2 linked regions of the Homo sapiens genome follow. The protein of the gene in region 2 purifies or fractionates together with the protein of the main gene of each other region. This does not show direct contact. Each region holds a gene or a part of one and is shown on either strand. Other genes may lie near its edges.

The links.
Region 1: the proteins of TUB (region 2) and MAK16 purify together in Homo sapiens (affinity purification with mass spectrometry; one large-scale study listed by BioGRID and IntAct). This does not show direct contact.

What each region holds. Positions count from the first base shown.
Region 1 is NC_000008.11:33,491,682-33,495,181, reverse strand, and holds part of MAK16 (protein MAK16 homolog), read right to left. Parts: intron 1-3,500.
Region 2 is NC_000011.10:8,094,711-8,098,210, reverse strand, and holds part of TUB (tubby protein homolog), read right to left. Parts: exon of another isoform or gene 2,714-3,500; coding exon 2,546-2,713; exon of another isoform or gene 1,527-2,545; coding exon 1,405-1,526; exon of another isoform or gene 984-1,404; coding exon 786-983; exon of another isoform or gene 498-785; coding exon 385-497; exon of another isoform or gene 1-384. UniProt on the Homo sapiens protein: Functions in signal transduction from heterotrimeric G protein-coupled receptors. Binds to membranes containing phosphatidylinositol 4,5-bisphosphate. Can bind DNA (in vitro). May contribute to the regulation of transcription in the nucleus.

The DNA.
Region 1 (3,500 bases), on a different chromosome or scaffold from region 2:
TTCATTCGTTTACATTTTCTAAAATCATGCTAGATTCCATGTGACAGAATAGGTAAAAATCTCTTCCTCCAGTGATCTCTCATTGGAGATGACACATGACATCAACCTGTACTACCACACAATAGCCCAGGATGGTGCATTAATTTGATAGTGAAAGTCATAGAGGGTTTTAAAGTGTTATATCTGTAAGTTATGTTAGAATGATTACGTAAAACTGTGTAGGGGCACATGGAAAATTAGCCAGGCATGTTAGCGGGCGCCTATAGTCCCAGCTACTCGGGAGGCTGAGGCAGGAGAATGGTGTGAACCCAGGAGGCGGAACTTGCAGTGAGCCGAGATCACGCCACTGCACTCCAGCCTGGGCAACAGAGCAAGACTCCATCTTAAAAAAAAAAAGGGCTACAGCGATGTTCCATGTTGTTCTCTAGAGTGGGGTGTTTACACTTCAAGGGTATCCGCTGAAGTGTAGGAAGAAAATATTCAAAACTTCCACATATCTCTTTTTCCTTAAAAAATTTAACATCATTACTACTTTTCTTGTACACTGACATTGGTGCCTTGACTCTGTCTATAAAGTAAATAGTTGTGTGTCAGATACAGTGAGCCAGATATCTCAAGGGAGGAATACGGCAGATAGGGCTTGCAAGTGGTGGTCTCACTTGTTTATTTAGACGACTATTTAACTGTTTATGTTTGCTTAGTTAAGCGGATTCATAGATGACACTGAATATTCTGCCAAAGATAGAGAGTAGTTATAAAAGTATGCTGGTTATCTAATGGGTTAGTATTTTTAAAAGTTGTAGAACCAGGCTGGCAAGGTGGCTCATGCCTGTAATCCCAGCACTTTGAGAGGTCGAGGTGGGCAGATCACCCGACGTCAGGAGATCAAGACCAGCCTGACAAACGTCGTGAAACCCCGTCTCTACTAAAAACACAAAAAATTAGCCGGGCAGAGTGGTGTATGCCTGTAATCCCAGTTACTCAGGAGGCTGAGGCACAAGAATTGCTTGAACCCAGGAGGTGGAGGTTGCAGTGAGCCGAGATGGCGCCACTGCACTCCAGCCTGGGCGACAGAGCAAAAGCTGTAGAACCTAAAGATGATCCATGCACTTTTCACAAAAAGAAAAATATTCCAAATTTGCCAATCTTTTTATGTAACCCAGTAGACATTTTTAAAAATAAATACGCTTAATCTGTGTCTTCCAAACAAAAGCAACATTTTAATAGTTTGAGGAAGACAATTGTTTTTTGAAAAAAAAAAAACTTGTTCTGTGAAGGTTGTGAAAAGAAAACTGATTATATCTACATATGGCACTGCTGAAAACATGTCTCCTATAAAAATTGCAATCACACACTTTAAAAATGTGGAAACAGAATATTGTAATGCATTTAAAACTCTTCCAAATCTACATTTTTCAGAGGGTTACAAACTCAATTGGTGAAAATAGAAAAAATTAATTTCTTCTGAAAGGTTTGTAGGAACACCTGTTTGACAACTGGAGATGAAAACTCACTAACTGGACTTGAAAAAAAGCCGCTCCATAACTAATGGAGCATAATGAAAAATTAAAGTACTTGAGACCACCTATCAACAATGCACTTCTCTACAATCCCTCAGTTATGTATGACAGCCCTTCAAGACAAAATCATACTCAGCTAAGAAGCAGACTTTTGTTTCACTACATCACAATTAGTTATAATACACATTGTATTATTAGTGGAAGTGTGTATGTATAATAACATTTATAGCCTGTAATCCCAGCACTTTGGGAGGCTAAGGCGGGTGAATCACCTCAGGTTGGGAGTTTGAGACCAGCCTGGCCAATGTGGTGAAACCCCATCTCTACTAAAAATACAAAAATTAGCCGGGTGTGGTGGTGCATGCCTGGAATCCCAGCTACTTGGGAGGCTGAGGCACAAGAATTGCTTGAATCCAGGAGACAGAGGTTGCAGTGAGCCAAAACTGCACCACTGCATTCCAGCCTGAGAAACAGAATGAACCTTTGTCTCAAAATAAAATATTTATAAATAACATTGGGGAATACATGTTCAAAAATTTTACTGAGGTGAGCACAACTTTGCAGACCAATGATACAGATTTTAGATACATAACTGTGATTAATGGGGACAGAAGCATCAAAAGAAAAGCTATCCCTATCAAAATACCAATGACAAATATAAATATAAAAAAAAGAAAAATACCAATGACATTCTTCACAGAAATAGAAAAAAAAATCCTAAAATTGTTATGAAACCACAAAAGATCTAGGATAGCTAAAGCTATCCCAAACAAAACAGCAAAACAAACAAAAAAAAACAACAAAAAAAACACAAAACAAACCTAGAGGAATCACATTACCTAACTTCAAATTATACTATGGACCTATAGCAACCACAACACTATAGTAATGGCATAAGAACAGACACAGAGACCAATGGAACAGAATAGAGAACCCAGAAACAATTCCACACACGTACAGTGAACTCATTTTCGACAAACGTGCCACGAACATACACTAGGGAAAAGACAGTCTCTTCAATAAATGGTGCTGGAAAAACTTGATCTCCATATGCAGAAGAATGAAACTAGACCCCTATCTTGTGCTATATACAAAAATCAAACCAAAATGGATTAAAAAACTAAGACCTCCAACTACAAAACTACAAGAAAACACTGAGAAAACTCCAGGTCATAGATCTGGGCAAAATTTCTTAATATCCCACAAGCAAAGGTAACCAAAGCAAAAATGGACAAATGGGAGCACATCAAGTTAAAAAGCTTCTGCACAGCAAAGGAAACAACAAAGTGAAGAGACAATCCACTGACTGGGCAAACTATCCACCTGACAAGGGATTAATAACCAGAATACAGGCCAGCGCGGTGGCTCACGTCTGTAATCCCAGCACTCTGGGAGGCTGAGGCAGGTAGATCACCTGAGGTCAGGAGTTCGAGACCAGCCTGGCCAACATGGCTAAACCCCATCTCTACTAAAAATACAAAACAAACAGCCAGGCATGGTGGTGCACACCTGGCATCCCAGCTACTTGGGAGGCTGAGGCACAAGAATCGCTTGAACCTGGGAGGCAGAGGTTGCAGTGAGCTGGGATTGCCCCATAGCACTCCAGCCTGGGTGACAGAATGAGACTCCATCTCAAAAACAAAACAAAACAAAATCCAGACTATATAAGGAGCTCAAACAACTCTATAGGAAAAAATTCTAATTATTGGATTAAAAAGTGAATAAAAGGGCCAGACATGGTGGCTCACACCTGTAATCCCAGCACTTTGGGAGGCTGAAGTGGTTGGATTGCTTGAGCCCAGGAGTTCAAGACCAGCATGGGCAACATAGTGAAGCCTCGTCTCTACAAAATATATAAAAATTAGCCAGGCATGGTGGCATGCACCTGTAGTCCCAGCTACTTGGGAGGCTGAGGCATGAGAATCACTTGAATCCAGGAAGCAGAGGTTGCAGTGAGCCAAGATCGCACCACTGCACTCC
Region 2 (3,500 bases):
CCCACCCCCAAGATTGCTGTGTGTCTCTTCCCTCAAGAGCTCACTCTCAGCCCTGTCCCTTGGCATTGACCATGGAGCCAAGGCAACTCTTCCATGGTGGCCTGCGTTATCAGTGACACCCTGGGGTTGGATCCATCACTCTTGGTGGGCCTGCACCCACCTCCTGGGAACAGCTTGGGGTCGGGTGTGTGATTCCCATCTCCAAGTCTGGCTCTAGGCTGGCATAGACATAGGCCTCCAGTTGGATGTGATTATCAGAGAGGATCCTGGGAGAGTATCCATCCCTGGCCTAGATCTCCTTCAGGAAGATTCAGGCCCTCTACAGACAGCTTGCCCCTGCCCCTCCCTCCCACTCCCGCCTGCTTCCTGGGGGAATGCTAGTACCGCAGTTTCCCGATATAGCTGTCCCCTCCTCGAGACAAGTCTGTTGGGTCCACAGAGATGAGGTAATTGGAAGTTTTACTCTTCTTTCTCTTCCTTCCCGCCAGGAGGAACACCTTGGGGAGTGGAATGAGGTCATATTCCAGACTCAGCCTCTGGTCTGCACACAGTCATGAGAGCCACTCACACAGACTCTCTCCGTTGCGTCAGCTCCCAAACGCACATATGTGCACACACACAAATGCACTGGAAAACACAAAGATGTGCACAGACCAGACACGAAGGCAGTTTCTTTGAGGAACTGAGAGGTCAGTGGTAGATATGAGACTTCCAGTCACATTTCAGCCCCTAGGATTTCAAAGGGCTGTAAAGCCTAGATGATAACATGCCCAGACCAACCTTACCTTCTTCCCATCCTCACGGTCCAGGTGCAGAAAGTAGGTGGGGTACATGCCCCGGTCCATCCCTTTCTTGTCCCGAGTGATGCGGCATTTGATGGTGATACCCTGGGGGGCCGGCCTCAGTGCAAACTCCTCAAGATCCTGGACCTCAACGTCCACTGGTTGCTCTGGAGCTGTTGGGCTAGGGGCTGAGGCTGCCTCCTATGGGGATGCAGAATAGGTGCCTGAGCCCCAAGGACCCTAAGCAGCCCAAATTGGTGGTCTGGGATCCAAATCTGCCTCCTAACGTGGCGGTGGGAGAGAGGGAAGGATCCTGGGATTGGGGCCTGGCCAGCCTGGGCCTGGGGTCAGAAGCTATCTTCCCAGCCCTGCCCTCAACAGTTCCTAGAGGTGGAGATGGGAGATACGGGAGGTCCTCAGAGGTCATCCTGTCCAACTGCATCTCCCCCCATACATCACCCTGCTGGCCTAGCTGAAGAGGTTAGGAGGCAAGGTAGAGGGACATAAGAGGCCAGCAGAGAAGCTCCTAAAGGCATACGAGTCCATCTCTTCACATGCAGTCCACCTCTAACGGATGAGCAGTCCTCCAAAAACTGCTGTGGATGCAGACTCACTCACTCACCCTGACGGACTTCCTGCTAGTAGCAGAGCTGGGGCGGGTGTTACTATTTAGCTGGGAGGAGCTGGAGCTATTCTCCTCCTCATCCTCCTCATCCTCGTCAAAGCTCATGCTGCTGGAGATGCCTGGGCCAAGGAGAGAAGAAGAAGGGATGAAGGAGGAGAAGTCTACGCTGCCCCTGAAATACACATGGTCACATACTCATGTTCAGACACTGACTCACCTGTACCCCCACAAACTTATGCACACACTCTTAGCCATATCTACACATATAGACTCCCATTCACACATATATTCCCACACATGTCCAGATATAAAAGGATATTCTCTCAGGTACACACATGAGCCGGGGCTGGCCACAATCCTCAGGATATATCCCCACCACCCAGTTTCAGCTCAGTCCCTACATTACCCCACTACCTAGCAGCCACCCTACCACTGTCTCTTGTGTATCAAGGCCTGCACTGAGCTCACCTTGAACTGGGAATCTCCATTTCTGACCTCAGGCCTATTAGAGGCCTTGGCTGGCATAGACCACGGAATCTGCCAGGGCACAGGCCTCAGCTCCTTCCTCAGCCCAATGTGGAGGGGACCCACTGACTCCTCATCTTTGCCCTGAGCTTCTATCTCAGCTGTCCTCCCGCCTGCCATTCCCTGGGAATGCCATCCCCATCCTCAAGTTGTCTCAAAGTCCTTTGTACAGGAAGCCATCCTTGATTAGATTCCTCACAATGTGTGGCACTGCCAGGCTTCTTCCCTCTGCCACCCTGCACCAGGGGCTCCCTAGGGCAGGGCTTGTGGTGGGAAAACTGAACAGCAGGTTTCCACGGAGGATCTACCCCGTCTCTTGGTATCCTGGCCCTGCTCCCAGTAGCTCAGCAAACATATGGGAAACTTCTTGCAAAAGGAGCTTTTTCTAAGGAGCAAAAGGAAAAGGAAATCTGCCCCCAAATCAGGGCCTCCCTGGGGCCTTAGCAGGGGCCCTGCCTAAGAGTTTCTCATTTGTCTCCGAAGTGTGCCCCACCCTCACCCACCATTGCCAGGGAGGGGTTTGGACACAGGAAGGCCATGCTCCCAGAGAAAGGTGCATCTGAGAACCTGGGACTGAGTTTTGGGGGTATCACTGGGTCCCCATGGGGCTCACCCTTCCTCTGCATCGTGGCACGGAGATCCTGCCCGCTGGGCCGTTCGCCCCCACCAGCTGCCGTCTCCCCTGCGTCCTGGGCGTGGTCTGACTGGCCCACAGTCAGAATCTGCACTGGGCCTTGGGCCTCAGACTTGTCTTCTGCCAGTGCTGCTGGCCCGCTGGTGCCTGCAGGCCACGGACACGCCTGAGTTACATCCAGGAGGAGGAGAGGAGGGCCTGGATTCTCAGACGTCCATGAAGGGGATGAGGGAAGAGTGGGGAAACCCTCTGCAAAACTTTATTTGCAAAAGTGATTTTTATAAAACTAATGATTGCACCAGCCTGTTAACAACTGGTAAGCTAGTAAGGGATGTGGGCTTCATTTCTTCTGCTCTTCCCCCAAATTAATTGCCGAGGGTTGGTTTACAACACCTCACGTCCTTAAAGCAGACGGCAGCCATCTACAAAACCAACTGCACAGTGGAAAAACAAGATGGAGAACAAGGACTGATCCAGACCATAGGCAAGGCCAGCAATCATTCATGGACACGACCAGCTACAAGCCATCAATGCTGGTGTTTTCTTCCACAAACAGACACAACATACACACGTGCAGTAACTCACATACATCATTAAAAACGTGGGCCCCTTGAGAAAGATTGCAATTGGCATACACTCGCCTTCCCAAATGGAGCATCTCCCATCCTACGTCAGCTTTCCTGCCCGTTACCACAGAGCTTCAGCAACAGAAGCAAGGCCTGACCCACACAGGTGGCAGCCACCCTGCCCGCCTACTGAGCTATGCCCAGAGTGCTCGGCCAGCTCCAGAAGCCCATGGCCTGTGACACATCACTGTCCAACCGTGACGCAGTGGCCTGGAAACCACTGTCCGTGAACAAAAGTTGAGGAAACGGGGTGTGTAGCCAAGAGACAGGACCTGGGGCAGGTACCGCCAATCACTGTCCTTAATCTT